Linked DNA regions of Homo sapiens: all the other regions are linked to region 1. Evidence: fine-mapped expression QTL. A gene starts in region 1. Each other region holds a variant in brackets. All regions are shown on one strand. Distances are from middle to middle.

Evidence for each region. PIP is the estimated chance that this variant, and not a neighbour inherited with it, causes the effect.
Region 2: its variant is fine-mapped to the expression of CHMP1A in whole blood (TOPMed, PIP above 0.99).
Region 3: its variant is fine-mapped to the expression of CHMP1A in visceral fat (GTEx, PIP above 0.99).
Region 4: its variant is fine-mapped to the expression of CHMP1A in thyroid (GTEx, PIP 0.95).
Region 5: its variant is fine-mapped to the expression of CHMP1A in fibroblasts (GTEx, PIP above 0.99).
Region 6: its variant is fine-mapped to the expression of CHMP1A in sun-exposed skin (GTEx, PIP 0.98).

What each region holds. Positions count from the first base shown.
Region 1 is chr16:89,655,686-89,660,753 of GRCh38, reverse strand. CHMP1A (charged multivesicular body protein 1A) reads left to right here and starts at 3,046. Exons shown (of 7, transcript NM_002768.5): 1 at 3,046-3,172. The coding sequence starts at 3,166. SPATA33 (spermatogenesis associated 33) reads right to left here and starts at 2,918. Exons shown (of 3, transcript NM_001271907.2): 1 at 2,806-2,918; 2 at 2,333-2,506. The coding sequence starts at 2,842. RefSeq lists an enhancer at 2,765-2,934 and silencers at 2,650-3,039, 3,260-3,319.
Region 2 is chr16:89,615,036-89,620,117 of GRCh38, reverse strand. All of the region lies in intron 1 of DPEP1 (dipeptidase 1), which reads right to left. Among named protein-coding and RNA genes, the nearest start is that of DPEP1, 3.9 kb to the right of the region's middle. RefSeq lists enhancers at 3,905-4,607, 4,608-5,082. The variant AT/T (reference allele first, on the strand shown) is at 2,078.
Region 3 is chr16:89,711,019-89,716,100 of GRCh38, reverse strand. VPS9D1 (VPS9 domain containing 1) reads left to right here. Exons shown (of 15, transcript NM_004913.3): 5 at 3,385-3,496; 6 at 3,579-3,641; 7 at 4,002-4,054; 8 at 4,132-4,219; 9 at 4,689-4,774. VPS9D1-AS1 (VPS9D1 antisense RNA 1) reads right to left here and starts at 4,245. Exons shown (of 4, transcript NR_036480.1): 1 at 3,879-4,245; 2 at 3,283-3,412. RefSeq lists enhancers at 3,254-3,353, 4,851-5,082 and a silencer at 3,994-4,413. The variant G/A (reference allele first, on the strand shown) is at 2,644.
Region 4 is chr16:89,955,543-89,960,624 of GRCh38, reverse strand. It overlaps DEF8 (differentially expressed in FDCP 8 homolog), which reads right to left. Exons shown (of 13, transcript NM_001242818.2): 5 at 2,965-3,114; 6 at 1,470-1,611. Among named protein-coding and RNA genes, the nearest start is that of SNORA119, 4.7 kb to the right of the region's middle. The variant G/A (reference allele first, on the strand shown) is at 3,132.
Region 5 is chr16:89,698,076-89,703,146 of GRCh38, reverse strand. SPATA2L (spermatogenesis associated 2 like) reads left to right here and starts at 1,442. Exons shown (of 3, transcript NM_152339.4): 1 at 1,442-1,519; 2 at 1,914-2,217; 3 at 4,842-5,071. The coding sequence starts at 1,915. RefSeq lists silencers at 847-1,566, 1,737-1,836 and an enhancer at 2,839-3,704. The variant G/A (reference allele first, on the strand shown) is at 2,684.
Region 6 is chr16:89,746,487-89,751,486 of GRCh38, reverse strand. FANCA (FA complementation group A) reads left to right here. Exons shown (of 43, transcript NM_000135.4): 32 at 1,585-1,757; 33 at 2,720-2,828; 34 at 4,597-4,656; 35 at 4,799-4,903. Among named protein-coding and RNA genes, the nearest start is that of ZNF276, 27 kb to the right of the region's middle. RefSeq lists an enhancer at 4,617-4,786. The variant A/G (reference allele first, on the strand shown) is at 2,846.

The DNA of each region.
Region 1 (5,068 bases):
TGTGCTCAGCTGTGGCCGGCTCCCATTTCTGCCCAGCAACCACTCATCTGCTTCTCTCTGTAAATGTGCCTTTTCTGGACATTCCATGGAAAGGGAACTGCAACATGAGTGGTCTTTCCTCTGGCTTGTCTCACTCAGTGTCCCACCTTTGGGACTCCTTCACGGTGTGGCAAGGGAGTCAGCAGCCTGCTCCTCACTGTCGCTCAGCCCGTCACTGCATGGAGAGCGTGCACACTTCATTTTATCTGCTGAAACTCTGTTCTCACTCTTGCTCTGCTGTTTTCCCTTCATGTCCACCTTCCTCCCCCACCCTCTGGTGTGACAGACACTGCTGGGGCCCTTCCAACAGGCGGTCCTCCTTCCCCCACTTCCGTTACTGGCAGAGGTCCTGCCCACTCCCATGCTTCACAGCTCCCTCCAGCCCCTGGTGAATTTGCACCATTGAATGAGTCCTGCAGAGGCTGGGCAGGCGAAGCCTTCCTGGGAAAGGTTTCCTTGCTAATATGAAGCAAGGAGCAATGCCTTTGCAGTAGATGCAGTCCTGCCTGCGTGTGGGGGGCTGTACACTCATCGGGGGCTGTGGACACTGAGAGTGGTCAAGAAGAGACACGCAAAGTCTTTGATGTCACTGTTGTGCTAACAAGCCAACCTGGAAGCTCCACCTCTGACCCTTCATTCGTGAGACATTAAATCCCTGTGTTAAAGCTGCGTTTAGTGAGCTTTTCTGTAACTTTCAGCTAAAAGCACCGTGACAGACAGGTAGCATTTTCCAAACTGCCACCCAAGGGTGATGCTATTCCTGCAGGGTTCCATCCTCCGGTGGGGGGTTGCGCCCTCCTGTGAGGGGTTCCACCCTCCAGTGGGAGGTTCCAAAGTTGGGAATTCAAATCCAAGTCTTTCTTCCAAGTCCAAGGCCCAGAGCCTCCTACTTTCAGCCCTTGATCCTACAAGCGTGTCAGTGTGAAGCAGTCCAGGCCCAGCTCCTCTGCCTAGCAGGCCAGTCATCCCCCTGACATTCTTTCTTGTCTGACCCGAGTGGTTCTCTCCTTATTATTTTTTTTTTTTTCTGAGACAGAGTCTCACTCTGTAGCCCAGGCTGGAGTGCAGTGGTGCGATCTCGCTCACCACTACTTCTGCCTCCCGGGTCCCGGTTCAAGGTTCGAGCAATTCTCCTGCCTCAGCCTCCTGAGTAGCTGGGATTACAGGCACATGCCACCACGCCCAGCTAATTTTTGTATTTTTAGTAGAGACAGGGTTTCACCACGTTGGCCAGGCTGGTCTTGAACTCCTGACCTTAAGTGATCCACACGCCTCGGCCTCCCAAAGTGCTGGGATTACAGGCGTGAGCCACTGCGCCCAGCCGAGTGGTTCATTCTTGTGATGAAACTTAAAACACCTCCTCCTGGCACAGGCCCCCAATCTCCTCGGACGGCAGGCTCTGCGGGTTCTCCCTGCCTGACCCTTCTGCAATTCCTACTGCAAGGCCTTGCTGGCTCCCACTGGGCCACAGCAATGGGTCTCTGACCGGGCCACCTCCCCTGCGAACTGGCTTCCCCTGTTGGTAGGCACAGACCTCATCATGCCGCCCTTGTTTTTTATTTTTAAATATTTATTTTTTGTAGAGACAGGGTCTCACTATGTTGCCCAAGCTGGTCTTGAACTCCTGGGCTCAAAAGATCCTCCTGCCTCGGCCAAATAACTGGGAGGACAGGTGTGAACTACCGCCCCAGGCAGCACCTCCGTTGTTTAAAATATTTAACGCTTCCAGCTCCACGTGGTAAAACTGATGGAAAACTTTGTATTCTAGCTTCTTCCTACTTTTGGGGCCTCATCTTCCCCACACACACCCAAAGGTCTGGCCACACTAGGCTGTTATAAAAGACACCTTTGTCGCACCCAGGTTCTACTCCTCGGTCACCCTCCGCAATGTACTTATCCCCACAGCCCTCGGAGAGCTACAGTCCAGCCTGGGACGGCCTCCCAATGCTCTGTTCCAGTGTGCGGAGGCTCAGGGATTCTCAGTGGCACCAAGATACCCAGCCCTCGAGGAGAACCTCAGGTGAGACACACGCACACTGCCCCAGCCCCTCGACCACCTGGTACGCACTTATCACTCGGGAACTGACCTACATTTTCATTAAACTTATGTTTTCAACTAAGATTTCTGGATATTTACCTCCTACATAAAGTTCCCAAAACAAACCAGTTTCATCTTTACGGCGCGTGCCTGCTACTAGTGTCCATCCGGTAGGGTCTTACAGTAGGCTCCTCACCCCAGCCCCAGATCCTCCAAGCCACTGACCTCGCTTCGCTCCCTCCCGCCGTCTCCTACCTTCCAGCGAAGCTGCCGGCGGCGGGTGCTTGGCTGTCCCGGCCCCCGGGTGGAGGCTGTCCACAGGCTTCTCCGACTCCCTGTCTGCCTGCCTGGCTTCCTGGGAATGCTTCTCCATCAACTTCTCCTTAGATTTTGGAACTGAATAGGTGGATCCCTTCTTTTGCTCCTCACCTGAAATATATGGATCATCCGTTAGACCCGGGACTTACCGAATGCAGGGCAGTGGGTCCCATCGTCTTCAGTCGCCTGCGTGGGTCCAGAATAAGCTGGCTTCAAGTCTCGAGTCTCCGCGTTTCCGTAACCGCCTCAGGCGGGAAACGCGCCGTCCGTGGCGGACTCGGCGGCAGGAACGGTTCGCACCGGGCCGAGCCTGGCGCCTGCGCTCACACCGCCCCGCCCAGCCCAGCCCCGCCCTGGGCCCGCGCCCAGGGGCGGAGACGCGGGGAGCCCAGCGCCTGCGCCTCCTTTACCTTTCCTGGGTTTCTCTTTGCTTTTGGAAAGGCCCATGGGTGAGCCCACCGCCCCCTCCGACGCAAGCCCGGGTCCCCACACCTCCGCGGCCGCGGAGCCGGGAGCGACTCACAAAAGGTCCTCGCGCCAGCGGCGTGCGTCACCATGGCGACCGCGCGCCGCGCAGCCGCGCCCCGCCCCTCTGGCGGGACCGGCCACCATCCTCTCGCGAGAGCATCCCGTGCGACCGGAAGTGGGGCGGCGACCCCGGAAGTCCCCGCCGGGTGCAGCTTGGTCGGTTCGATCGCCGCCGGGACCTGACACCGCCCGGAGTTGGCGTCCCTTCTCCCTCTCCGAGTGCTGCTCCTGTCATTGTGGCCATGGACGGTAAGAGGTCGCGGCCGTCCTCCGGGGACTCGCGCGCGGGGCGGGGCCGCTTCTCCCACTGGCGTGGGCTCCGCCCACCTGGGGCCGCGGGCAGGACTCAGGAGAGCTCGGGCCTCGACCGTCGATCCCCCGGGACCCCATCCCCAGGGCCTCGACCACCGACCTGGGACCCCTTTTCCCGGTCGTCGTCCCCCGATCCCCGACCCGGACCCCATCCCCAGGGCCTCGACCACCGACCTGGGACCCCTTTTCCCGAGCCTCGTCCCCCGATACCCGACCCGGAACCCCTTCCCCAGGGCCTAGACCACCAACCCGGGACCCCTTTTCCCGGGCCTCGACCCTCGATCCCCGACCCGGAACCCCTTCCCCAGGGCCTCTACCACCGACCCGGGACCCCTTCTCCCGGGCCTCGACCCCCGACCACCGACCGGGACCCTTCCCAGGCCCCCGACCCCCAACCCGAGATCCTTTACCCCGGGCCTCGACCCTCGACCCGGGACCCCTCCCCCCAGGCCTCGATCCCCGACCCCCGATTCGGGACCCCTTCCCCGGGGCCTCCATCCCCAAATCTCAACCCGGTATGCCTTCCCCGGGGCCTCGACCTCTGACCCCCAACCATGGACCCGGGACCTAGACTCCCGACCCAGGACCCCTTGCCCAGGGCCTGGACCCCCGACCACCGACCCAGGACCCTTTCCCCCGCCCCTGGCACTCCTCAGCGTCAGGCGCCCTTTCCCGCCAGCTCGGTAGGGGGGACTGTGCGATGCCTGTTCGGCCTTTCGGGACTTGGAATGTCGGGTCAGAGGGCACCAGAAAAAGTGACAGTTGCACCCCCTGCCCCAAACAGCATCACTGCAAATCAGAAGGACTCAGACAGAAAGCGCTCCCTGAGTGCCAGGCCCTGGTCACAGCAGCTCTTTGCGTCCATTCTCCATGTGGGGAAGCAGAGGTTTGAGCAGGAGCCAGCACAAGCGTTTCTGTGCTCAATGGGTCGCCCTAATTCTTACCTTCTACATCTGGGGCTAGCCGGCTGTGTGCTCAGGGATACCAAAGAACAGGAAGAATCTGGCAAAATGAAGTCCTATGTTTGCTGAAACATCGTTGGGCTGGTGTGATGGGCAGGCTTTTAAAAATACTTTTTGAAGGGCTGGGCGCGGTGGCTCACGCCTGTAATCCCAGCACTTTGGGAGGCCGAGGCCGGCGGATCGCAAGGTCAGGAGATCGAGACCATCCTGGCTAACACAGTGAAACCCCATCTCTACTAGAAATACAAAAATATTAGCCAGGCGTGGTGGCGGGTGCCTGTAGTCCCAGCTACTCGGGAGGCTGAGGCAGGAGAATGGCGTGAACCCGGGAGGCGGAGCTTGCAGTGAGCCGAGATCGCGCCACTTCACTCCAGCCTGGGCGACAGAGCGAGACTCCGTCTCAAAAAAAATTCTTTTAGTTAGAAGTGTGAAAAGCTATAGTACCACCGTGTCATCATCATGAAGGAAATGTGTAGAGATTTTCTGCCCTGAGAGAAGATGAAAGATAACATCTACCTCCCGCCACAAAAAATATGCTGGCCAGGCCGGGTGTGGTGGCTCAGGCCTGTAACCCCAGCACTCTGGGAGGCCGGGCGCGGTGGCTCACGGCTGTAATTCCAGCACTTTGGGAGGCCGGATGTGGTGGCTCACGCCTGTAACCCCAACACTTTGGGAGGCCGAGGTTGGTTGATCACCTGAGGTCAGGAGTTTGAGACCAGCCTGGCCAACATGGTGAAACCCCGTCTCTTCTAAAAATACAAAAATTAGCTGGGCCTGGTGGCGTGCACGTGTAATTCTAACTACTTGGGAGGCTGAGACAGGAGAATCGCTTAAACCTGGGAGGCAGAGGTTGCAGTGAGCCAAGATGGTG
Region 2 (5,082 bases), 41 kb after region 1:
CGGGCTTTCGAAATCCAAGGAGGGTCTGCGTGTGGACCGCACTGAGCTGGAGACCAGGCTGGCTTTGGAATTCTGAGGTTGCGGCGGGAGGGGGGCATACTCAGTGGGTTCAAGCAGGCGGGGGGAGGCCAGGCCTATCCCGGACCCCACCCAAGGCAGGGTGGAGACCTAGGGCTGCTGCTGGGCTAGTCACAGGGGCCCTTGGAGTCTGACATTTTCAAGCAGCCAATGATGGGCAGCAGTGGGAGGAACAGTGGGGGCTGCAGAGAGGGGAGGGGACGCAGGGGGCTGCAGAGAGGGGAGTGGGGGGCACAGGGCGCTGCAGGGAGGGGGTGCAGGGGGCTGCAGGGAGGGGAGCAGGGGGCACAGCAGGCTGCAGGGAGGGGGTGAAGGGAGTGCAGGGGGCTGCAGGGAGGGGAGCAGGGGGCAAAAGGGGTGCAGGGAGGGGAGCAGGGGGCTGCAGGGAGCTACAGGGAGGGGAGCAGAGGGAGCAGGGGGCTGCAGGGAGGGGAGCGGGGGGAGCAGGGGGACCAGGGGGCTGCAGGGAGGGGAGCGGGGGGAGCAGGGGGAAAGCGGGCTGCAGAGAGGGGAGCAGGGGGGCAGGGAGCTGCAGGGAGGGGAGCAGGGGGGCAGGGGGCTGCAGGGAGGGGAGCAGGGGGGCAGGGGGCTGCAGGGAGGGGAGCAGGGGGGCAGGGGGCTGCAGGGAGGGGAGCAGGGGGGGCAGGGGGCTGCAGGGAGGGGAGCAGGGGGGGCAGGGGGCTGCAGGGAGGGGAGCGGGGGGGCAGGGAGCTGCAGGGAGGGGAGCGGGGGGGCAGGGGGCTGCAGGGAGGGGAGCGGGGGGGCAGGGAGCTGCAGGGAGGGGAGTGGGGGGGCAGGGGGCTGCAGGGAGGGAGCAGGGAGGGCAGGGGGGCTGCAGGGAGGGGAGCGGGGGGGCAGGGAGCTGCAGGGAGGGGAGCGGGGGGGCAGGGGGCTGCAGGGAGGGGAGCAGGGGGGGCAGGGAGCTGCAGGGAGGGGAGCAGGGGGGCAGGGAGCTGCAGGGAGGGGAGCAGGGGGGGCAGGGGGCTGCAGGGAGGGGAGCAGGGGGGCAGGGAGCTGCAGGGAGGGGAGCGGGGGGGGCAGGGGGCTGCAGGGAGGGGAGCGGGGGGGCAGGGGGGCTGCAGGGAGGGGAGCAGGGGGGCAGGGAGCTGCAGGGAGGGAGCAGGGAGGGCAACCCTCCGGAAGCCAAAGGTAGAGGGTGCTGGTGGGATGTGCGTACGTAAAGAGCAAAATAAAACCAGTTTTGTGCAGGGTTCCTACCGTTCTGGTGAAAATAAAATAAATATTAATCTATAAGTTACAAAATGCGAATTGTGCAACTTTGCCCGGGGAACAGTGCAGCAATCACTTAAGCTCAGGAGTCTGAGACCAGCCGGGGCAACACAAGGAGACCTCGTCTCTACAGACATAAAGAAACTAGCCAGGCTGGTGTGTGCCTGCAGTCACAGTTACTTGGGAAGCTGAGGTGGGAAGGTTGTTGAGCCTCGGAGCTTGAGGCTGCACTCCCACCTGGGCAACATAGTGAGACCCTGTCTCAAAACTAAATGCATAAATAAATAATGTAGGCCAGACCTGGTGGTTTATGCCTGTGATCCCAGCACTTTGGGTGGCCAAGGCGGGAGGATCGCTTGAGGCCAGGAGTTTGAGACCAGCCTGGGAAACATAGGGAGACCCCCATCTCTACAAAAAATATAAAAATTAGCCAAGCGTGGTGGCACACACTTGTGGTCTTGGCTACATAGCAGACCGAGGCAGGAAGATGGCTTGAGTCCAGGAGGTTTAAGCTACAGTGAGCCGTGATCCTACCACTGCACTCCAGCCCGGGTGACAGAGCAAGACCTTGTCAAGATGGATAAACAAACTAATAAATTAATTAAAATAAAAATGTGAATTGTACAATTTTGTTGATTCTGTATGAGTTAAATCCTATTCTATTTGCATTTAAGCCAAGTATTACACAATATGAAGATAAATGGTAAATACATGCTAATAATTTAAAATTTTAATTTTTCTTGACTTAGAATGATGATTTTTTATTTTT[AT/T]TTTTTTATATTTTTTGAGACTGAGTCTCGCTCTGTCGCCCAGGATGGAGTGCAGGGGCACAATCTCAGCTCACTGCAACCTCCGTCTCCCAGGTTCAAGTGATTCTTGTGCCTCAGCCTCCCGAGTAGCTGGGATTACAGGTGCATGCCACCACACACAGCTAATTTTTGTATTTTTAGTAGAGATGGGGTTTCACCATGTTGGCCAGGCTAGTCTCAAACTCCTGACCTCAAATGATCTGCCCGTCTTGGCCTCCCACAGCGCTGGGATTACAGGTGTGAGCCACTGCGCCCGGCCTCCCAAAGTGCTGGGATTACAGGTGTGAGCCACCGTGCCCAACCTCCCAAAGTGCTGGGATTACAGGTGTGAGCCGCCGCGCCCGGCCTCCCAAAGTGCTGGGATTACAGGTGTGAGCCGCCGCGCCCGGCCTCCCAAAGTGCTGGGATTACAGGTGTGAGCCGCCGCGCCCGGCCGCCTTCCAGCATTTCTGGCACAGACCGGCACAGGTGTGGGCTCCTGTCCTTTGCATGTTGTTGGCTTTCTGTTGACCAGATGGCCTGGAGACCTCCTGGCGTGGATGCTTCCACCTCATTCTCTGTAACATGTGCGCAAGCCTCAGAGCTCATGTTAGCTGAGCAATTCTTCCATGCAGGCACCGTGCTGAGGGAGCTCCTGTGGCCTCGTGAGGCAGGAGCGCTTTTCCCCTCACCTCTCAGGGCCCTGGGCCTTGGTGCCTGCCTACCTCTCCCACCTCCACCCAGCTCAGCCGTGAGTCTTCATGCAGTGTCCTCAGGGCATCACATGAGAGCCCCAAGCACCCCATCTCTCTGCCACTCCCTCTCCCTTGTTCTAGCTCCACCCTGTCTTGATTCCTGGCAATTCTAATAAGAGAGAATTGTCCCCAACCCTGGCCAAGCAATTCCCTGACATGTAATGACCTGTGCTACCCTCACCTTGCTCGGGTGGGGCCAGACCTTCACTGCAGTCCCATCACCCCACCCCTCCCTTCCCCTTCTGCTCCAGGGCCTGCCCAGGACCTCCAGCCTCCCGCCCCATTCTCTGCCAGACTCCATCATCCCCTCTGGAGCCGTCACGCCGCTCGGTAAAACCTGCCCGCTTCCTACCCGCTTCCTGGCCGCTCTCTGCCTGCTTCCCGGCCGCTTCCTGCCCACTTCCTGCCTGCTTCCTGGCCACTTCCTGTCCGCTTCCTGGCCACTTCCTGGCCGCTTTCTGCCTGCTTCCTGCCCACTTCCTGCCTGCTTCCTGGCCGCTTCCTGGTCGCTCTCTGCCTGCTTCCCAGCCACTTCCTGCCAGCGTGCGTTTGCACTGCCCTTCGCGGAGTGTGCTGAGGGGAGAAGGCCCAGCCGTCCCAATCTGCGCTACTTTGAATTCCTGATCACAAACTTCAAGGAACCTCTTTAAGCCACCCGGGAATCCTGCTGCAGGTCCCAGTGCCAGAACCAGAAGCATCTGTGCCATCTGGGAACATTCTGGTGGAGCAATCGCCCTGTCCTCGAGGTCGGCCATACACGCTGGGTCTTCACCACCCCGGGGATGCAGATGCCTCCTGGCGACCCCCTCCTCCATCCAAGGACCCCTCCCGGCACAGCCCCGAGCACACCCGCTGTCTCCCCTCCTTTCCGCCCGTCTGTCCGATCCTCTCACAGCTGGCTGGGCCATACTGCTCTGTGAAACTGTGCCCGGTCAGCCCCGGAGTGGGTGACCCAGGACCCGCTGGCTGTGTCCTTCCAGGGCACAGGTCCCAGCCTCTCCTGTTTCGTCGACACTGGCTACCTGTGTGGGCTTGTCTGTTTCTGGGCTCTGAGCCCTATCCCCACAGCACTGACTCCCCCACCCACCTGAACCCCCAGCCCAGCCCCCGAAGCCCCACGGACCCAGCCTCCTGCTGCGCACCCCAGCTGGAGTTCAGGGAGCATTTTAAATTCACTTTTTGTGTTTTTTTTTTGAGATGAAGTCTTGCTCTGTCACCCAGGCTGGAGTGCAGTGGTGTGATCTCAGCTCACTGAAACCTCTGCCTCCCAGGTTCAAGTAATTCTCCTGCCTGGGGACACGACACGTAGGGGACGCCTGAGCCCTGCGCCTTTGGGCCTCAGTATCTGTGAAATGGGCCTGTGAAAGGGGTGGACACTCAGAGGCCAGGGCGGGCCTTGGTGCTTGGTCTCCCTCCACACAGCCCACTCCTCTCCAATTCACACCCCACCAGCCGGCCAGGACCCCGGGGCCCCCGTGTTGACCGCCTGCCTGGCTGCTGCAGCTCCTGCCCTCTGGTGGCCAAATCCCAACGTGCCTCCGTGGGGCCGGTTCCCGGCTCCAGTTCACCGGGGCCTCGCGGGGTCCTGCAAGGCGGGGTCCTGGGGGCTCACTTCACCCAAGAACCAGCTGCTCCTCCCTCAGGGTGGGCTCTGCCTGTGGGCTCTGAAGACCTGGGAAGGCTGAGCAGGTGCTCGGAGCCACCACTGCTTCCATGGGTGTCCTGCCCTTTAACCCACGCCCTCACCCCTGAGAGCAAGGCTGCTGTTACCCCTGTCTCCTACTCTTGGAAACTGAGGTAGAGAAGACAGGTCCAGCCCCCTGGCTCATGGGAGATGGAGCCAGGATGTACGCACAGGACACAGGTCCAGAGACTCCAGAGCTGCGTGTAGACCAGCACCACTGCCCTGCCAGGCCCGCCTGCCCGCTCTGTACCCAGTGGGAGCTGGGAGCCTCAGCCCGACCTGTGAGGCCACCCCTCAGGGGCGGCTCTGAGAGGCCGCTTTGGGGCTCAGTGTCCGTCCACCGCAGCCTACGTCCCCCTGAAGCTGCAAGCAGGGACTGAGGGACCCTCCCCGTCTGCTCCTGGCCTCCGACTGGAGATTTGTCAAAGCTGACCTTTTGTCGACAAGGAGACTGAGGCCCAGCGGGAGGTATTTTAGAGACACTTCCACGTTTGGAGGCCCTAGATGCCCCCTTCCACCCATGACACCCACTGAGCTTCTCCATGGG
Region 3 (5,082 bases), 55 kb before region 1:
TCACCGCGCCCGGCCCCCACAGTGCTGGGATTACAGGCATGAGCCACTGCGCCTGGCCTGACAGCGAATGTTTTTAAAATGAGTCCCAGAATGGGAATATCCCCTGGCCGGACACAAGCAAATGCAGGCGGCCTGGTGGCTCACGCCTGTAATCCCAGCACTGTAGGAGGCCGAGGCGAGCAGATCACCTGAGGTCAGGAGTTCCTGACCAGCCTGGCCAACATGGTAAAACCCCGTCTTTACTAAAAATACAAAAATTAGCTGGCCGTGGTGGTGTGCACCTGTAATCCCAGCTACTCAGGAGGCTGAGTCCAGGAGAATCGCTTGATCCTGGAAGGTGGAGGTTGCAGTGAGCGAAGATTGTGCCACTGCACTCCAGCCTGGGCAACAAGAGTGAAACTCCGTCTCAAAAAAAATTAGGCATAGTGGTGTGCCCCTGTAGTCCCAACTACTAGGGAGGCTGAGGTGGGAGGCTCACTTGAGCCTGACAGGTTGAGGGTGCAGTGAGCCGTGATTGTGCCAGTGCACTCCAGCTTGGGCAACAAAATGAGACTCTGTCTAAAAAAAAAAAAAATGACCGGGCGCGGTGGCTCACGCCTGTAATCCCAGCACTTTGGGAGGCCGAGGTGGGTGGATCATGAGGTCAGGAGATCGAGACCATCCTGGCCAACAAGGTGAAACCCCATCTCTACTAAAAATACAAAAAATTAGCTGGGCGTGGTGGCGGGCACCTATAGTCCCAGCTACTCAGGAGGCTGAGGCAGGAGAATCCCTTGAACCCAGGAGGCAGAGGTTGCAGTGAGTTGAGATTGCGCCACTGCATTCCAGCCTGGGCGACAGAGCAAGACTCCATCTCAAAAAAAAAAAAAAAAAAATTTAGCTGGGAACAAGGATGAGTTATATATCTATATATATGTAGAAATCCATACATACAAAACTGAGCAGACAAGTTTATAACAGCAGAGCAGATATAGCTGAAGAGCAAATTCATGTATTGGAAAAAAGGTCAAAAGATAGCTAGAATGAATTACAGAAACAAAAAATAAAGACAGAAAACAAGAGATGGAAAGCCTAACGTGTTCGTTGGAGTTCCAGAAAGAAAATGGGAGGGAGGCCAAGGCAGGCAGATCACAAGGTCAGGAGTTCAAGACCAGCCTGGCTAACATGGTGAAACCCCATCTCTACTAAAAATACAAAACTTAGCTGGGCATGGTGGCGCGTGCCTGTAACCCCAGCTACTTGGGAGGCTGAGGCAGGAGAATCGCTTGAACCCAGGAGGTGGAGGTTGCAGTGAGCCAAGATCGTGCCACTGCACTCCAGCCTAGCAACAGAGCGAGACTCCGGCTCAAAAAAAAAGAAGAAAGAAAATGGGAGAGAGGCATTATTAGAAGTTAGAATGGCAGACAGTTGTCTAGAACTGATGAAAGATACAAAGACACAAATGCAAAAAGCCCAGTGACTCCCAAGTGGGAGAGACGAGAAGGGTCCACTCCTCCTGCCCCTGCTCTGGCGGGGCCTGGCTTCCCAGTCCCCTTGTTTCTGCAATGTGGCTTCAGGGCAGGGTGGCCAGGCGTCAGGCTCTGACTTTCCTCCTTGTCCTCCATTGTCCCTGACAGTGGGAAGGTACGAGGGAACAAAGCTTTCAAGGTGGAGTGGCTGTTGGGAACTGTATAAAGGAGACAGGACACTTCTTCCTTTCATGGGTCACAGACTAATCTGGCTGTTTGACCCACATAGTGCCTTTAAAGCAGGGGTGTCCAATCTTTTGCCTTCCCTGGGCCACACTGGAAGAATTGTCTTGGGCCACACATAAAATACGCTAACACTAACAACAGCCGATGAGCTTAAAAAAAAAAATTGCAAGGCTGGGCGCAGTGGCTCCCGCCTGTAATCCCAGCACTTTGGAAGGCCAAGGCGGGCAGATTACCTGAGGTCAGGAGTTCGAGATCAGCCTGGCCAACATGATGAAACCCCATCTCTACTAAAAAATACAAAAATTAGCTGGGCGTGGTGTCACATGCCTGTAATCCCAGCTACTCGGGAGGCTGAGGCAGGAGAATCACTTGAACCCAGGAGGCGGAGGTTGCAGTGAGTTGAGATTGTGTCACTGCACTCCAGCCTGGGCGACAGAATGAGACTGACTCAAAAAAAAAAATTTTGCAAAAAAACCTCAGTGATTTTTTGAGACAGAGTCTCTATCACCCAGGCTGGAGCACAGGCACATGCCACCACACCCGGCTAATTTTTTGTATTTTTAATAGAGACGGGGTTTCACCATGTTAGCCAGGATGGTCTCAATCTCCTGACCTCATTATCCGCCTGCCTCATCCTCCCAAAGTGCTGGGATTACAGGCGTGAGCCACCGTGCCCAGCCCTCAGTGATGTTTTAAGAAAGTTTAGGAATTTGTGTTGGGCCACATTCGAAGTCATACAGCCTCGGATTGTTGCACAAGCTTGCTTTAACAAGATTCATACTGTTGCCAAACACATATAACGGATCTCCATAGAAGTCCAGTGGTCCAGCTTCTCTTGAAAAACCAAAAGTCCGGCCGGGCGCGGTAGCTCACGCCTGTAATCCCAGTACTTTGGGAGGCCGAGGCGGGTGGATCACGAGGTCAGGAGATCAAGACCATCCTGGTTAAT[G/A]CGGTGAAACCCCGTCTCTACTAAAAATACAAAAAATTAGCCGGGCATAGTGGCGGGCACCTGTAGTCCCAGCTACTCAGGAGGCTGAGGCAGGAGAATGGCATGAACCCGGGAGGCGGAGTTTGCAGTGAGCCGAGATTGCGCCACTGCGCTCCAGCCTGGGCGACAGAGCGAGACTCCGTCTCAAAAAAAAAAAGAAAAAAAGAAAAACCAAAAGTCCTGGCAATACCAAAACCTGTGTTTTCTTTCTTTTTGTTATTTTTTGTTTTGGTTTTGTTTTTTTGAGACAGAGTCTCACTCTATCACCCCAGCTGGAGTGCAGTGGCCAGATCTCGGCTCACTGCATCACCTCCCGGGATCAAGCTATTCTGCCTCAGCCTCCCGAGTAGCTGGGATTACAAGTGTGCACCATGCCCAGCTAATTTTTGTATTTTTAGTAGAGACAGAGTTTCACCATGTTGGCCAGGCTGGTCTCGAACTCCTGACCTCAGGTGATCCGCCCGGCCTTAGCCTCCTAAAGTGCTGGCATTAGAGGCGGGAGCCACTGCACCTGGCCAAAACCTGTGTTTTGGAAGGGCAGGCAAGAAGGGGCAGATGTTGCAGCCCACCCCAGATGGCTCCCCTCCTCTTTCTCCTCACCTCCTGGCCTCAGAGCAATCCGGGAGGATGAGAGAGACTCCTCTGGTGTCCAGACACCACTGGGCTTCCTGGGGTCTAGACAGCAGCTTGTCACATTTCCAGAGAGCTGACGCCACTGGAGGAGGCCTCCCTGCAGAATCAGAAGCTGAAGGCTGCGTATGAGGCCCGAATGGCGCGGCTAGACCCCAGCCAGGCCATGCAGAAGACATCCCTGGTGAGTGGGGGCTAGGGAGGGCCTGGGGGTGCGTGGGCGCGGGGCAGAGGGGAGTCGGCCTTACTCCCTCCTCCCCCCCCAGACCCTCTCTCTACAGCGGCAGATGATGGAGAACCTAGTGATTGCCAAAGCCCGGGAGGAGACAGCAGCCTTTCTGACCGCCCTGGTGGTCCCCGAGGGGAAACTCAGTGTGGCCTTGAGCCAAGGGCAGAGAAGGGGGCAGCGAGGGGAGCGGAGGTTCCGGGGTCGGGGTACAGGGCCGAGGGGCTCCCCGCTTTGCAGAGGCAGGGTCTCAGGGGAAGGCCCGGCCGCCGTCCCCCATGTTCTCTGGCCCGGCCCTCCTGGCTTGAGCGCAGGCTGCCTTCTGCCCCAGAAGCCTTACCTGGGGACAGCCCCTCACCGAGAGGAGGTCCCTGGGACGTCCCGGCCTCTCCGGGTGTGGGACGGGGTTGGGAACCGAGGGCCCGCTCAGATCCCACGCTCGGCCCCTTGACTCTGCACCCAGCTCCAGAGAAAGATGGAGGAGCGCCGGCTGCGGCTCCAGGAGGCCGCCAACAGGTGGGACTCCTGCCCGCCCCTGGGGCCGCTGCGGGGAGGGCCTGGCCCCGGCACCCACCGCGTGCCTTTCTCCCCAGGAGGTTTTGCAGCCAAGTCGCCCTGACCCCGGAGGAACGGGAGCAGCGGGCCCTTTACGCCGCCATCCTGGAGTACGAACAGGACCATGTGCGTCCCCCACGGGCCCAGGCTTTGTAGGAGGAGCCCAGCGAGGGGGGCGGGGTCAGAGCCGCCTGGGTGGGCCCCCGTGGGGGGCGGAGCCAGAGGCTGTGGGGGGCAGTGAGGGGGCGGGGCCAGAGGCCCGTGGGAGGGCCCGGTGAGGGGGCGGGGCCAGGGCTGCGTGGGGCGGGGCAGAGCGAGGAGGCGAGGTCAGGGGTCGCGTGGGAGGGTCCCAGCGAGGAGGGAGGGTCCCTGCGAGGAGGGAGGGTCCCAGCGAGGGTGCAGGCCCAGGGTTCGCCTAAGGTTTCCCTCGGGTGTGGGTGGGGGCGGGGGCGGGTCGCGGGGCCTGCTGGCGCTGGGTCTCCTGCACCCCAGGACGGGCTCCCACAGTCTCTAGGGGTCGGCACTGGTGGGAGATGAGGCGCGTCCGGTCGTGGCGGACCCACCGTGCTTTCCTTCAAGGCCCCCTGTCCCGTAGGACTGGCCGAAGCACTGGAAGGCCAAGCTCAAGAGGAATCCGGGGGACCTGTCACTCGTGACCAGCCTGGTCTCACACCTGCTCAGGTAGCTGGGCCTTCAGGCCCCACAGAGCCCCTGCGCACCGGCCTTGGGCACCTCTGCCTGGTGCCAGGTGCCGGAGAGGGGCTGGACTGACACAGGGAGCCTGTGCCCGGCCACGTGGACACTGCAGCTCCCTTTGCGCTGAGGGCGTTTCCTCGGCTTCTCCAACCTCCCCAGCGGGGGCGGGGGGCAGACTTTCCAACATTCACTGTCAGGAGGTAATGCAAGTCGCTTCTCTGAAACCGGGCATAGCGCGGCACCTGTGGATGCCACGGAGAGGCCGAGGCTGGCCGCGTTCTCACGTCCTCTTC
Region 4 (5,082 bases), 300 kb before region 1:
CAAGCCCCTCAGCTTCCCCATCTCGGTTTCAGCAGCTCCACCCTTTCAATATCATGAGTTATCCTGAAGGGTTTCTCTCTCTCTGTTTTTGTTGTTGTTGTTTTTGTACTTTTTAAGAGACAGGGTCTTGCTCTTTTGCCCAGGCTGGAGTGTAGTCGTGCAATCAGAGCTCACTGCAGCCTCAGACTCCAGGGCCCAAGCGATCCTCCCATCTTTGCACTGGAAAACCCTAGGATTACAGGCGTGAGCCACCGCACTCAGTCAGACTATTTTCTAATCTGTTACATTCCGTTTCCAAACCTTCAGCTGGACTGCCCTTAGCGACTCCTCACTCCCACCACCTACCCCAGCCCAATCAGAGTCATCCCCCTCTTCTCAGTCACCTCCCTCTCAGTCCAAGCTCAGTCAGCAGCCACAGTAACCTATTAAAGCTCAAGTATGTCCAGCACCCACTTGTGGCCCCCACTGCACTTAAAGAAAAGCCCCAGCCACCTCTGAGCCCACCTCCCCCAGAAACAGAACTGCAGCCCCACCTGGCTCTCTGCTCCTCCTTATATCAACCACAGGGCTGCCCCCACCGGAACATTCCTCCAGACACAGAGCTGCAGCCACACCTGGCTCTCTGCTCCTCCTTATATCAACCACAGCACTGTCCCCACCGGAACAGTCCTCCAGACACAAAGCTGCAGCCACACCTGGCTCTCTGCTCCTCCTTAAGGCACTGGACACATCAACCACAGGGCTGCCCCCACCAGAACATTCCTCCAGACATATTGTCTTGGCTTGCTCCCTGACCTTCAAGTTTTTGCTTAAAAGTCACGTGACGCCGGCTGGGCGTGGTGGCTCACGCCTGTAATCCCAGCACTTTGGGAGGCCGAGGTGGACGGAACACAAGATCAGGAGATAGAGACCATCCTGGCTAACACGGTGAAACCCCGTCTCTACTAAAAAAAATACAAAAAATTAGCCGGGCGTGGTGGCGGGCACCTGTAGTCCCAGCTACTCAGGAGGCTGAGGCAGGAGAACGGTGTGAACCCGGGAGGTGGAGCTTGCAGTGAGCTGAGATTGCACCACTGCACTCCAGCCTGGGCGATTGAGTGAGACTCCGTCTCAAAAACAAAACCAAACCAAAAACAAACAAAAACAAAAAACAAAGTCACGTGATGCCTTTACATTCTGCCCTAAAGTCACATTCACTCCACCCTAACACGTGCTAGGTCCTTTCCCTTTTTCTTCATTGTACAAACTAGACACACCATGTAATTCACTAGTTTAATTTCTCATCCAGAACAGCCCTGTCCAATGTAGACAGTACAACGAGGAAATGCATATTTAGTTAATTTAACTTTGACTGGCCATGTTTGGCTAGTGGCCACCACACTGGATAGCTCACATCTGAATGTGAGCCCAGCGGAGGCAGGAACTTTGGTCTCTCTCATTCCTCACTCCTCGTCTGGGTCTCGGCCCACCTGTGCAGGTGTACCAGGTCTGAATGAGCCCCCAGATGATGGTGTTACACTTGTCACAGGTCTGCTTGACGCTCTTGCTCTTCTCCTTGTAAAAGCGGTGCTCAAGGAGCACTCGGATGTTTGGCTCATCCTCATTGGGGTCCTGCAGAGGGTGAGTCAGGGAGGGGGTCACAGGTGAGCTGGGCTGAAGTTCCTTTCCCTTCGCACAAGCCCCTCAACTTATTTCTTCCAGGCACCATTTAGGGCAGAGATTGTGAGTTTCAGCACAATGCCATGTCCCTTTTCTCCCTTTCACAGTAAACAATGATCAGCTGGACAAGGACCGCCAAGGTCACATGCTACCTTTCCCAGCATCCCTTGCGACCTTTCCCAGCATCCCTTGCAGCGAGGGGCTGTGTGGGATTGCACCGGGCCATGGGCATGTGAGCGGGAGCGACCCGGCCTCTCTGCCCCTCCTGCTTTTTGCCGGTTAGGTGCAGGGCAATGGAAAAGGAGGCCCTCCCCAACACCATTAGCTGTCATAGAGGCCCCAGACCACCTATGGGATTTTTACGTGAGGAAACGAACACATCTTCTCTAAGCCACTATGTTTTGGGGTTTTTTTTTCTTACCACCAATTTACCTGTTTCCTCATGAATATTCTACTTTCTACATTCCCAGGGATACCTGAATCAGCACAGGGGACACAGGGCAGCCAGGCCAAAGCACACACAGACCCAAGGACTGCATCAGGAACATCTGTGGCCTGGGACCCACCACCTTCTTTTGTTGTCACCTTCAAGACACCACCCGTCCTTGTCCATGTGGCTCACTCAGGGAGGAACTTACTTAGCCCACCCGCTTGCTTCAGTGGGTGGGCACACAGCCCAGAACTAGCCAATCGGCCACCGTCATTGGGTCAGTGGGCGGGCACACAGCCCAGAACTAGCCAATCGGCCACTGTCATTGGGTCAGGGGTGGGCACATGACCCAGAACTGGCCAGTCAGCCACTGTCATCCGGTCAGGACTGGCCAATGAAAGTCAGGCCTGAGGTTCCTGCTATAACCACTGTGAAAAGGCAGCTGTCATCTGCACAGGGAGGCTCAGCTCCTGGAAAGCAAGATGTGGTTGCCGGGACCGTCTCTGCCACCGCACAGGGAAGGCCTGCCTGAGGCTGGATCAGACACAGGAAGTCGAGTTGGAAGAGAGCAAGATTCCTGACACTGGAGGATCTTCCAGTCACCAAGCAAATACATTTTTCTTTTTGGCTTAAGCTACTCAGGGTTGAGTTTCTGTTCCTTGCAACAGGAGGGTCTAGGCTAATAGGGAAACCTCCCGCAGTGGGGTGAGGGCCCGTCTTCCACCCTGCCTGTCTCGTGCCCTTCTACCTCAGCCCCTGAGGCCGAGAGAGAGACCACCGCCTGAGAGAGAGCCAGAGGCTGGCAGGGTCCTCCTAGTTCCACAGTTCTGGCCTCGGCCCCAGGCTGCCCCACGGCGGGGCGGCCCCACACCCACCTTCAGCTCCTGGAGCTTCAGCCGGAGGTGGATGAGTCGCACCACGGCATCCTTCTGCTTCTCCGACTGCTCGGGCAGCTCCAGAATCACCTGCTTGCACTCCTCGATCGCCTGCCGCAGCTGCTGGACGTCAGAGGCCAGGAACAGACCCTGCCCAGGTTGGGGGC[G/A]GGGGCAGTCAAAGGCCCATCCTGCAGGAGCTCCCTGTTAAGGCCCATCCGCCGAGACAGGCCCAGAGCAGACCCCGACACCCCTCACCCAGAGAAGGAAACTCAACCCAGAGGGCACCGAGGACTTGCTCCAGGGCAGGAAAGGTGGCAGCACGGTCAAGGTCCACCCGGTGCTGCGTGCTCCTAGCCTGACCTGCCTGCCCACAGACCTCTGAAAACCTAATGTTTGAAAGTTGCTTTTCAAAAGACAACTTCCTTCTTTGAGAAATCCAGATGCTTTTTTGTTATGTCACTTCACTTCCTTCTGAAGAGCTTCCTCTTGGAGGAAAGCTAGGGAAAGGACATTTGCTGTCATGAAGGACAGTAAGTGGCCTCGAGCTTGACTGCCAAGCCCAAGCACATGCCGAGAGCCAGCCCCAGCACTTCTGGTTGCTTTCGCCACATAGCGACCAGGGGGCTCACGGCCCAGCAAGGCCCCAGACTCAGAACACTCTGGGGATCCCGGGGAAGACAGGATCAGGTCTCAGTGCTGGGGAGCCTGGACCCCGCCCTCAGGAGCCATCCTCCTCCTCCAGGCTGCTGGGCTCTGAGACCCAGGCAAAGGGGAGGTGGCACCCTCCCCTCCCCCTTGCAGCTCAGCCTGTGGCCCAAAGGAAGTGCTCAAAATGTTGTAATATACAAAACAAGCTGAGTGCAGTGGGTCACACCTATAATGCTAGCACTTTGGGAGGCCGAGGTGGGTGGATCACTTGAGCTCAGGAGCTTTAGACTAGCCTGGGCAACAGAGCGAGACCCCGTGTCTATAAAAAAAAAATGAAAAATTATCTGAGCATTGTAGTGCACACCTGTAGTCTCAGCTAATCAGGAAGCTGAGGTGGGAGGATCGCTTGGGCTCAGGAGGTCGAGGCTGCAGTGAGCCATGATTGCGCCACTGCACTTCACAGCGGGGGCAACAGAGCGAGACCTTATCTCAAGAAAAAGGAAAAAAAATAAGATACGAAACAAATATATGAAGTCTCTCCCTCTTTTTTTTTTTTTCAGACGGAGTCTCTGTCGCCCAGGCTGGAGTGCAGCGGCACGATCTCGGCTCACTGCAACCTCCACCTCCCGGGTTCAAGCGATTCTCCTGCCTCAGCCTCCTGAGTAGCTGGGACTACAGGGGCGCTCCACTATGCCCGGCTAAATTTTTTTTTGTATTTTTAGTAGAGACGGGGTTTCAGCATGTTGGTCAGGCTGGTCTCGAACTCCTGACCTCACGATCCGCCCGCCTCGGCCTCCCAAAGTGCTGGATTACAGGCGTGAGCCACCACGTCTGGCCCAAATCCTTTCAAAGTTACATTTGAATGTTGCCGTAATGTTTCCCTCAAAAGTTGGAGATGGTTTGCATAAAAATAAAAGGTTTTCAAACTTTTTTTTTCTTTGAGACGGAGTCTCACTCTGTCACCCAGGCTGGAGTGCAGTGGCGCAGTCTCGGCTCACTGCAAACTCTGCCTCCTAGGTTCACATCATTCTCCTACCTCAGCCTCCCGAGTAGCTGGGACTACAGGCATGTGCCACCACGCCCGGCTGATTTTTTGCATTTTTTAGTAGAGACGGGGTTTCACCGTGTTAGCCAGGATGGTCTCCATCTCCTGACCTCGTGATCCGCCCGCCTCAGCCTCCCAAAGTGCTGGGATTACAGGCGTGAGCCACCGCGCCCGGCCTCAAACTTTTTTAAAAAAATCATTATATCCTCCCCCTTTTCTTCTTCAACACAAGGCTTCCATGGAACAAAACACGGAACAAACAAGAGTGGCCCTGTAATACCGACTGGTCAGTACGAGGCAGACAAGGGGCTTCCCCTTGCCTCCCACACCCTGACTCTCGGCAAGTGTACAGGACCTCAAGGACCCCAGAGGGAATCTATTCTCTGCACATTTGCTTCATGAAGACATGGAGCTCAGGGGACAGA
Region 5 (5,071 bases), 42 kb before region 1:
ACCAAGAGTGAGTTCAGTAAACAGTAAGTAAAAGAGCTCCCTGTCCAGAGGTGGCCACCTAGATAACTCAGGGAGATCCACCGACTGCATCACGATTTTTTTTTCCAGACATTCTCGCTCTGTCACCCAGGCTGGAGTGCAGTGGCACGATCTTAGCTCACTGCAACCGCAACCTCTGCCTCCCAGGTTCAAGTAATTCTCCTGCCTCAGCCTCCCAAGTAGCTGGGCTTACAGACATGTGCCACCACGCCCGGCTAACTTTCGTATTTTTAATAGAGACGGGGTTTCACCATGTTGGCCAGGCTGGTCTTGAACTCCTGACTTCAGGTGATCCGCCCGCCTCGGCCTCTCAAAGTGCTGGGATTACAGGCGTGAGCCACCGCACCCGGTCATGATCACTATTTCTAAGATGCCAGCAGGGAACTTCCAGGTAAAAAATCTAAGAAAAAGGGGGGACCTCGCCGCCCAGGCCCAGGGAAAGTTTCAACAAACTTGGGCCTTGGTTTTGGTGGCCTGGAGAGATGAGGGACACAGACGTGAAGTAGCAAAGCCTGCCCAAAGCGGGGGTGTGGGGTAGGGGTGGGTTTCGGCTGGGACCTCCAAGGGTCTCCCTCATCCTCCTCTACTTCTGGGCAATGCGAGAAAGTGGCTGTAGCACAGAACAGAGGAACCCGAGCGAAGAAAACGTCCCCGGGAAGTCGTGGCCCAGATTTAGCCTGGGTGGATCCGCAGCCCAGGTCAGCTTTTAGCCTAGAGAGGGGGGCGGCTTCGCCCTGCCTCAGAGACCCGCCCAGACGATGCTCTCAAGGGCTGCAGATGGCAAGTGCAGGAGGCCGGGAAGCGGAGCCAGCATAAACAGAATCTGAGGTCCCCGCATCCACCTGAGGCTGCTGTTTCAGACGAGGCTGAAAGGCTTGTCCTTCCGCCCACCTTCCGTGCCGCGGGCCCCTCCCTCAAGGGGATGGCCCCGCCCCACAGGGGAGGCCCGCCCCCGGATCCGGCCAATCCCCGCCAGGTAATGCAGGTGGCCCCGCCCCGCAGGAAAGGCTCTTCCCAGGATCCAGCCAATCCCCGCCAGGTAATGCCGGTGGCCCCACCCCCCAGGGGACGAGCCCGCGCACCTGCTTCCCCGCGGCCGGGTCGCCTGGGGCTGGGTCCCTGTCTCGTGGGGAGGAGCGGCCCAGGCACAACGTTCCCTGAGCGCCTGCCATGAGCCCGCAGCCCTCGGCCCAGCGGCGTCGTGAACGATACCGGTCCCGCGAGGAGACGGGCGACGCGGTGACAGGAGGCTCTCGGGGTGCCTCGCGCAGGGGCTCGGCCGGGCTGACACCTCCTCCTCCCCTTTCACCAGGCCCCGCCCCTCCTAAATTATTCGGAGGCGGGGCCTGCGCCAAGCCCCGCCCCGCCCCCAGCGTCACGGCCGCGGACCCCGGGCGGAGCCGACTCCCGGCGGAAGCGCGCGGCGCGCGGGGAGGCCCGAACTGATCCGCGGCGGCCGGAGACCGCTGGGGACAGACAGGTAGCGCCGTCACCCGCGGGATCCGCAGCTCCATCTGCCGGGCGAAGGGGCTCTGGTCGGGAGAGGGCTCAGCGGGCGGAAGCGCGTCTCTAGAGAAGGGTGCGGTCGATAACCGGGGGCGCCCCTGGAAGGCCGAGGTACCCAGGCTGGAGGGAGGGGCTGGAGGTGCGGGGGCGCTCAACTGGAGGGGCCTGGATCGCTGGGTGGGCGGGCAGCTGATGGGGCCGAGGTCTCCAGCGTAGGGGGTGCCGAAGATACCGGGGGCGCCCAGCCGCTGGGGGCGGGGTCTCCAGGCTCGAGGGGTCCTGGGGACGCTGGGTGAGGGTTCGGGGAGAGCGCGGCGGGCTGGGCGCGGCCTTAGGTCCCTGACCCCCCCGACCCCCGTCCGCCGCAGGATGGGCAGCAGCTCGCTGTCCGAGGACTACCGCCAGTGCCTGGAGCGCGAGCTGCGACGGGGCCGCGCGGGCGTGTGCGGGGACCCCTCGCTGCGCGCGGTGCTCTGGCAGATCCTGGTGGAGGACTTCGACCTGCACGGGGCGCTGCAGGACGACGCGCTGGCTCTGCTCACCGACGGGCTGTGGGGCCGCGCCGACCTGGCGCCCGCGCTACGCGGCCTGGCTCGCGCCTTCGAGCTTCTGGAGCTCGCCGCGGTGCACCTGTACCTGCTGCCCTGGAGGAAGGAGTTCACCACCATCAAGGTAGGCGCCAGGCCAGGAGGAGCGCGCCCCTCGTCCTGGCCTGCGGGTCGCGGGGCCGCCGACCATGGGGGACCACGCCTTTCGAGAGAGAGGGGCTTCAAGTGTCCTCAGTGCCTGGTGGGCTCCTCAAGGCTCCGAGCGCTGAGGGGTCGTGGGCGTGTGGGGGCACCCACTCCTAGGGCTGAGAACATGGGGTGGGCGAGGGCAGGCTTGGGTGCTGCCTACGGGGTCCTGCCCTGAGAGCTTGCGTCAGTGTCTTCCCTAAGAGGCCTCGCGGCCCCAGTTGCCATGGAAATCTTAGGACGGGGGCACAGAAGGGACTTGAGTTCCCATGGTCATCCTAATTCCTCCAGGTTATGGGCCAATCCCATTTGCAGAGGAGGCCGCCGAGGCTGGGAGGACTGCAGATGGGTGCATCCCTGTGAAGTCTCAGGGCTGGGCTCAGACCTAGTGAACTCCACGGCCT[G/A]GGGCGGGAGGCTGTGCCCAGGGCTGGCCTGGCCTCTCCAGGTGAGCTCCTGGCGGCAGGAGGGGGCAGGGCCGCCGGGAGCTCTGAGCTAATTCGGAAGAGTAGGAAGCCGATGACGTCACTGGGCACGTGGGCGAGCTACGCCTCCGCCGGTTGCCATGGCAGCGGCAGTCTCTCCGCGGCTCCCCGGGGACACCTGCTGGTCGGAGGCGCCAGGACTTTCATTCATGAGAGAGGACGGACAGGCCCGCCCTTGAGGCCTCCCAGGGGGCGGGGCGGGGGAATAACCGGCTTCAGTGCCGGACAGCCCTGGTTTGGACTTAGTTCTGCTGCTTCCTGGCCGCGAGGACTTGGCCAAATTAGCTAATCTCTGTCAGCCCCTTTCCTCCTGAGACAGCGACACGGGAACAGTCCAGTTCATGGGGCCAGAGGAATGAATCAAAGCCCCGAGCTCAGTGCTGCAGGCACTGGGCGCTCCACACGTGGGCCGTGTCCAGGCATTAGATGCTAGGAGTCCCGGAGTTAGGGAATTTGAGAGTCAGGAGACGCTCGCAGTGATTGTCCTGAGCTCCTTTAGTTCTTCACCTAAGTGTAGGCTAGAAAGCACTCAGCCAGGCCGGGCGCGGTGGCTCACGCCTGTAATCCCAGCTCTTTGGGAGGCCGAGGTGGGCAGATCACGAGGTCAGGAGATTGACACCAGCCTAACCAACATGGTGAAACCCCGTCTCTATTAAAAAATACAAAAATGAGCTGGGTGTGGTGGCACGCGCCTGTAATCCCAGCTACTCAGGAGGCTGAGGGAGGAGAATCACTTGAACCTGGGAGGTGGAGGTTGTAGTGAGCAGAGATCGAGCCACTGCACTCCATCCTGGTGACAGAGTGAGACTCCGTCTCAAAAAAAAAAAAAAAAGAGCACTCACCCTTCTACCGTCCCACGGCTGTCAGCCCAGTGCATGGACAGCCTCTGGAGAGCGCTGAAAACAGACGTGTCACCCCCATGGTGGAATACTACACAGCAGGGGGAATGAACGTTACAGCTTCTGTCCTTGTCTGCAAGACTGTAGTGGAAAAAAACAAAGTTCAGAACAACACGTTTAAGAGGCTACCTGTCTAGCTTTGGTTAGAGACCTTACAAAGAGGTGAAAAAAAAGGGGGGACTACCTCATACGAGGAGCAAACGAAATCTGTATTTGGGTTTGCAAAACAAACACCTGGGCAAGTACATTCAAAACTAATTAGATGAGGCCATCTCCAGGGGTGAAGGGAGCGGTGGGACAGAAGACAGTGGAATTTCTCAGTACAGGGGCTCTTCATTTTGTTCTGATTTGTGAGCTAGGTTAATGTATTCATTGTTTTTTCCATTAAATTTAAGAAATTCGGCCAGGTGCGGTGGCTCACACCTGTAATCCCAGCACTTCGGGAGGCCAAGGTGGGTGGATCATGAGGTCAAGGGATCAAGACCTTCCTGGTCAACATGGTGAAACCCCGTCTCTACTAAATATACAAAAATTAGTGGGGCGTGGTGGTGCGCACCTGTAATCCCAGCTACTCAGGAGGCTGAGGCAGGAAGATCGCTTGAACCCGGGAGGAGGAGGTTGTAGTGAGCCGAGATCGTGCCACTGTACTCCAGACAGAGCGAGACTCTGTCTCAAAAAAGAAAAAAAAAAAAAAATTCTAGGCCGGGCACAGTGGCTCACGCTTGTAATCCCAGCACTTTGGGAGCTCAAGGCAGGCGGATCACTTGAGGTCAGGAGTTTGAGACCAGCATGGCCAACATGGTGAAACCCTGTCTCTACTAAAAATATGAAAATTAGCCGGGTGTGGTGGTGGGCGCCTGTAGTCCCAGCTACCCGGGAGGCTGAGGCAGGGGAACTTGCTTGAACCTGGGACGCAGAGGCTGCAGTGAGCTGAGATGGAGCCACTGCACTCCAGCCTGGATGACAGAGCAAGACTCTGTCTCAAAAAAAAAAAAAAAAAAAAAAAAAAAAAGAAATCATCATGTTTGGGCCTGGCCCAAGCTGGCTAAGCCTAGTCTCTGGGGTTGGGTCTGAGCATCAGAAGCTGCCAAGGCCTGAGCCAACAGATCCCGGACCCACTGTACCCTAGGGTCTGGCCTATGGGAGGGTGGGCAGTCACTGACCTGGCCGCTCCCTTGCAGACCTTCTCTGGGGGCTACGTGCACGTGCTGAAGGGTGTGCTCTCAGACGACCTCCTCCTGAAGAGCTTCCAGAAGATGGGCTACGTACGCAGAGACAGCCATCGGCTCATGGTGACCGCCCTGCCCCCCGCCTGCCAGCTGGTGCAGGTGGCCCTGGGCTGCTTCGCCCTCCGGCTGGAGTGTGAGATCCTGGGTGAGGTGCTGGCCCAGCTGGGCACCAGTGTGCTGCC
Region 6 (5,000 bases), 91 kb before region 1:
ATTATTATTATTATTGGGACAGGGTCTTGCTCTGTCACCCAGGCTAGAGTACAGTGGTGCGATCATATCTCTCTGCAGCCTTGACTTCCTGGGCTCAAGCAATCCTGACAGCGTGCACCTGTGTGCGCCACCACACCCAGCTGATTTTTTGTAGAGACGGAGTTTTGCCATGTTGCCCAGGCTTGTCTCGAACTCCTGGGCCCAAGTGAACCACCCATCTCGGTCTCCAAAATTGTTGGATTACAGGCGTGAGCCACTGCACCTGATCTTTATTCTTCTTTAAAAAATACAGCCGGCCAGGCACGGTGGCTTATGCCTGTAATCCCAGCACTTTGGGAGGCTGAGGTGGCTAGATCACTTGAGGTCAGGGGCTCAAGACCAGTTTGGCCAACATGGTGAAACCCCATCTCTACTAAAAATACAAAACACTAGTCAAGCATGGTGGTGTGTACCTATAGTCCCAGCTACTCAGGAAGCTGACTTAGGAGAATCAGCTGAGCTCGAGAGTCAAGGCTGCCATAAGCCAAGACTGCACTGCCGCACTCCAGCCTGGGCAACCGGACTGAGACTGTCCTAACAACAACAACAACAACAAAAGACTTGTGAGGCAAAAATGATGTGTGGGGTAAAATGTTAGCCAGAGGTTAATCTGGGTGAAGGGCACATGAGTGTCCTCCTGCTGTTTTTTTTTGTTGTTGTTTTGTTTTGTTTTGTCTGTTTGTTTTTGAGACAGAGTCTTGCTCTGGAGTGCAGTGGCGGGATCTTGGCTCACTGCAGCCTCTACCTCCCGGGTTCAAACTATTCTCCTGCCTCTGCCTCCTGATTAGCTGGGATTACAGGCGCCTGCCACCACACCCAGCTAATTTTTGTATGGCTAATTTTGTTGGCCAGGCTGGTCTTGGACTCCTGACCTCAGGTAATCCATCTGTCTTGGCCTCCCAAAGTTCTGGGATTACAGGCGTGAGCCACCATACCTGGCTGTTTTTTTTTGTTTGTTTTTTTTTGAGACGGAGTCTCACTCTGTTGCCCAGTCTGAAGTGCAGTGGTGCGATCTGGGCTCACTGCAAGCTCCACCTCCCGGGTTCACGCCATTCTCCTGCCTCAGCCGCCTGAGTCGCTGGGACTACAGGCACCCGCCACCATGCCCAGCTAATTTTTTTGTATTTTTTAGTAGCGACAGGGTTTCACCATGTTAGCCAGGATGGTCTCCATCTCCTGACCTCGTGATCCTCCTGCCTTGGCCTCCCAAAGTGCTGGGATTACAGGCATGAGCCACCACGCCCAGCTGTTTTTTCTTAATTGATAAGTAGTTGATAAGTAGTACTGTAACTCCTGGGCTCAAGGAATCTGCCTGCCTCGGCCTCCCAAAGTGCTGGCATTACAGACGTGAGCCACAGCACCCGGCCTGCACTGTTCTATATTTGCAATTTCAAAGTGATTTCCAATTGAAATAGCTTGCCCCACTTGTTCCTTCTTGCCCTGTCCACTGTGGAGACCTCTCCCTGACCCCTGACGTCTGGGTCCCCGACTGGCTGGGCAGTGAGCCCCGAGGCCTTCCTGTGCCAGCATACTGCTCTTTTTCAGGAGATGGTAGCTGACCTGGAGCTGCAGCAAGACCTCATAGTGCCTCTCGGCCACACCCCTTCCCAGGAGCACTTCCTCTTTGAGATTTTCCGCAGACGGCTCCAGGCTCTGACAAGCGGGTGGAGCGTGGCTGCCAGCCTTCAGAGACAGAGGGAGCTGCTAATGTACAAACGGTAACACCTACTACCACCTGGGCAGGGCAGCACCACCTGGGCAGGGCAGCATCTCATGACGGTCCTAGAGGTTCTTTGTAGTGAGTTTGTTTCCCGTTACTTACTTGTCTGTGTGTCCCCACCCCAAGCCTGTCCATTTCTGTGGCACATGCCACGGAGAAGAGGATCTGGAGGGTTGAAAGTACTTTTGATTAAAACCTTCCAGCCAAGCGAGGTGGTTCATGCCTGTAATCCTAGCATTTTGGGAGGCTGAGGTGAGTGGATCACCTGAGGTCAGGAGTTTGAGACCAGCCTGACCAACATGGCGAAACGCCATGTCTACTAAAAATACAAAAAAAATACAAAAAAATTTAGCTAGGTGTGGTGGCGGGCACCTGTAATCCCAGCTACTCGGGAGACTGAGGCAGGAGAGTGGTGTGAACCTGGGAGGCAGAGGTTTCAGTGAGCCGAGATCACGCCATTGCACACCAGCCTGGGCAACAGAGCGAGACTCTGTCTCAACAACAACAACAAAACCTTCCTGCTCAGACGTGGAGGGACGTCGCAGAAGGAGCTCTTGTGAAAGTAGGGAAAAGTGTTCAGAAATGCCCACGGCGGCTGCATTTATAAGAAGCAGCGTGGAGTCATTTAATTTTACAGTCATAGGGAATTGCTTCACTAGACAGACTGGTGCGTCATCCACTTGGTTATCGTGTAACTGTCAGAAGTTGTTGGTTATTATGTAACTGTTAAAAGTTGTTTGTTTGGTAACACATTTTGAATGCAGTGGGCCAAACACAGTATAGGGGAGGTGGGCTCAGAGTGCAGGCTTTGGATGGGACAGAGGGACACAGGCCAAGGCTCTGGTTCCAACAGTGGCCCTGGGTTTCAGGGTGGTGGTTGCTGCTCTGAGAGTCTGAGCCCTTGGGAAGGAGCAGAGTGTACGCTGTGCTGTCGCCACCAATACAGCCCCTTCTTTCCAGGATCCTCCTCCGCCTGCCTTCGTCTGTCCTCTGCGGCAGCAGCTTCCAGGCAGAACAGCCCATCACTGCCAGATGCGAGCAGTTCTTCCACTTGGTCAACTCTGAGATGGTAGGTGCCCCGTGTGC[A/G]CGTGTCCGTCCGATCTGTCAGTGCCTGTGGCGCTAACAGCAGCTCTTGCAGCCTCCATGCGTGTACTGACCGTGTGAATTACTGAGGAAAGGGTTCAAAGTCAAATAGGGAACAGTGTCTGGAATGCCATGTGAGGGAGGACCCCACCCACAGCCAGGACGGCGACCAGCACATCACCAAACCAGCTGTAGGTTGCCTTCTCCCAAGTTTGAGTTCCTTTAGTTTCCCTCAAGTTTTAATGATTTTGACACATGGAATCGTACAGACCATTTTGTGTGCCACGCACCTCGGTTCATTTATTTCTAATCTCAACATGCTTCATGTGTAAAAAAAGCCTTGTGGTGATCTGACTACCGCTGTTGCCTGCCAGGCAGCCCAGTTATCTTCCATTTTAGACACTGCCCAGCGTGAGTTGCAGGGTGATCTTAACCAGCAGGCTGGGTGCGGTGGCTCACGCCCGTAATCCCAGCACTCTGGAAAGGTGGGGGATCACTTGAGCCCAGGAGTTCGAGACCAGCCTGGGCAACATGACAAAACCCTGTTTCTACAAAAAATAGAAAAATTAGCTGGGTATGGTGGTGCACGCCTGTACTCCCACCTACTTGAGAGGCTGGGTCAGGAGGAGTAATTGAGCCCAGGAGGCAGAGTTGCACTGAGCCAAGATCCCACCACTACACTCCAGCCTGGGTGACAGAGCGAAACTCTTGTCTCAAATAAAAAGAAGTGACACTCGCTGTGGGGACGGGCAGCGTAGGGACCCAGTTGGTCAGAGCTGGGGAGACGGATACCAGCCCCTCCCACTCTACAGAGAGCAGCTTCTGCTCCCGAAGGCCTTTTTCTTGTTTTTGAAGATGCACAAATGTGAGAGATGGAATTCAGGTTCCATGCCAGCTGTGCAGCATTTTATATTTTTATTTATTTATTTATTTATTTATTTTTTGAGACAGAGTCTTGCTCTGTCGCCCAGGCTGGAGTGCAGCAGTGAAATCTTGGCTCACCCTGCAACCTCCGCCTCCCAGGTTCAAGCGATTCTCCTGCCTCAGCCTCCTGAGTAGCTGGGACTACAGGTGCCTGCCGCCATGACCGGCTAAGTTTTGTATTTTTAGTAGAGATGACGTTTTACCATGTTGGTCAGTCTGGTCTTGAACTCCTGACCTCGTGATCCACCCGCCTTGGCCTCCCAAAGTGCTGGGATTACAGGTGTGAGCCCGGCCTTGTGCAGCACTTCAAAATGTGACAAGGAAAGCAGAGGACGTGAGACTAGCAAAAGCTTTCAGAAAATCACTATGGTCTCCTTTGAATTCTTATGAATGGCTGTTTTTCAGAAAGCTCTCAGTTGGCACGTGACAGCCGACAGACAGGAAAACACCATAGACAGCACTTGGTTAGTGAAGGGACCAGAGGATGGTTGGCCCTTGGTATTAGTGTCGTCCTCACCACAGTTCTACGCTCCGGGTGCGTCCCCTTCCCTGCGGCTGCTTGTGCCTCCCTGGCTTCTTCCTGGAGCCTACAAGACTGTTTGGGCCAGAGCTGGTGGGCTGCAGGATCTGGCCGCCCAGGGAAGCCGTTAAGTTTCAGGACAGCACAGCCAGGGCGCCAGGCCCGGTCAGCCCAGGAGCACCATCCATGGTGGCCACGCCAAGCCTTAGCGAGTGTTTTTCTCAAAACTGAATCCACAGCAGCCACTCTGCATGTTGGTCTCGCCTCTCTTCCTGTGGGCTTTTCTTACCTGCCTTGAACTCTTTTGCAGAGAAACTTCTGCTCCCACGGAGGTGCCCTGACACAGGACATCACTGCCCACTTCTTCAGGGTGAGATGCTCCCTCAGCCCCTCTCGTGGCCTTCTCAGAACGCCGTGGGTGGATCCTCCTGTCAGCTTCCTGTGAGTTCCTTCACTCTACTAGTTGTGGGTCCTCACAAACCGCTGACCTCCTGCTGCGTTCTCTCCTGCAGGGCCTCCTGAACGCCTGTCTGCGGAGCAGAGACCCCTCCCTGATGGTCGACTTCATACTGGCCAAGTGCCAGACGAAATGCCCCTTAATTTTGACCTCTGCTCTGGTGGGTCAGCTGTCTTGTTTGGTGTTTTGTTTTGGGGATGAGTGGGAGACTCCACAGCTGCCTCTGGCATCTCTGCAGCACGTCTCCATCACGGGTG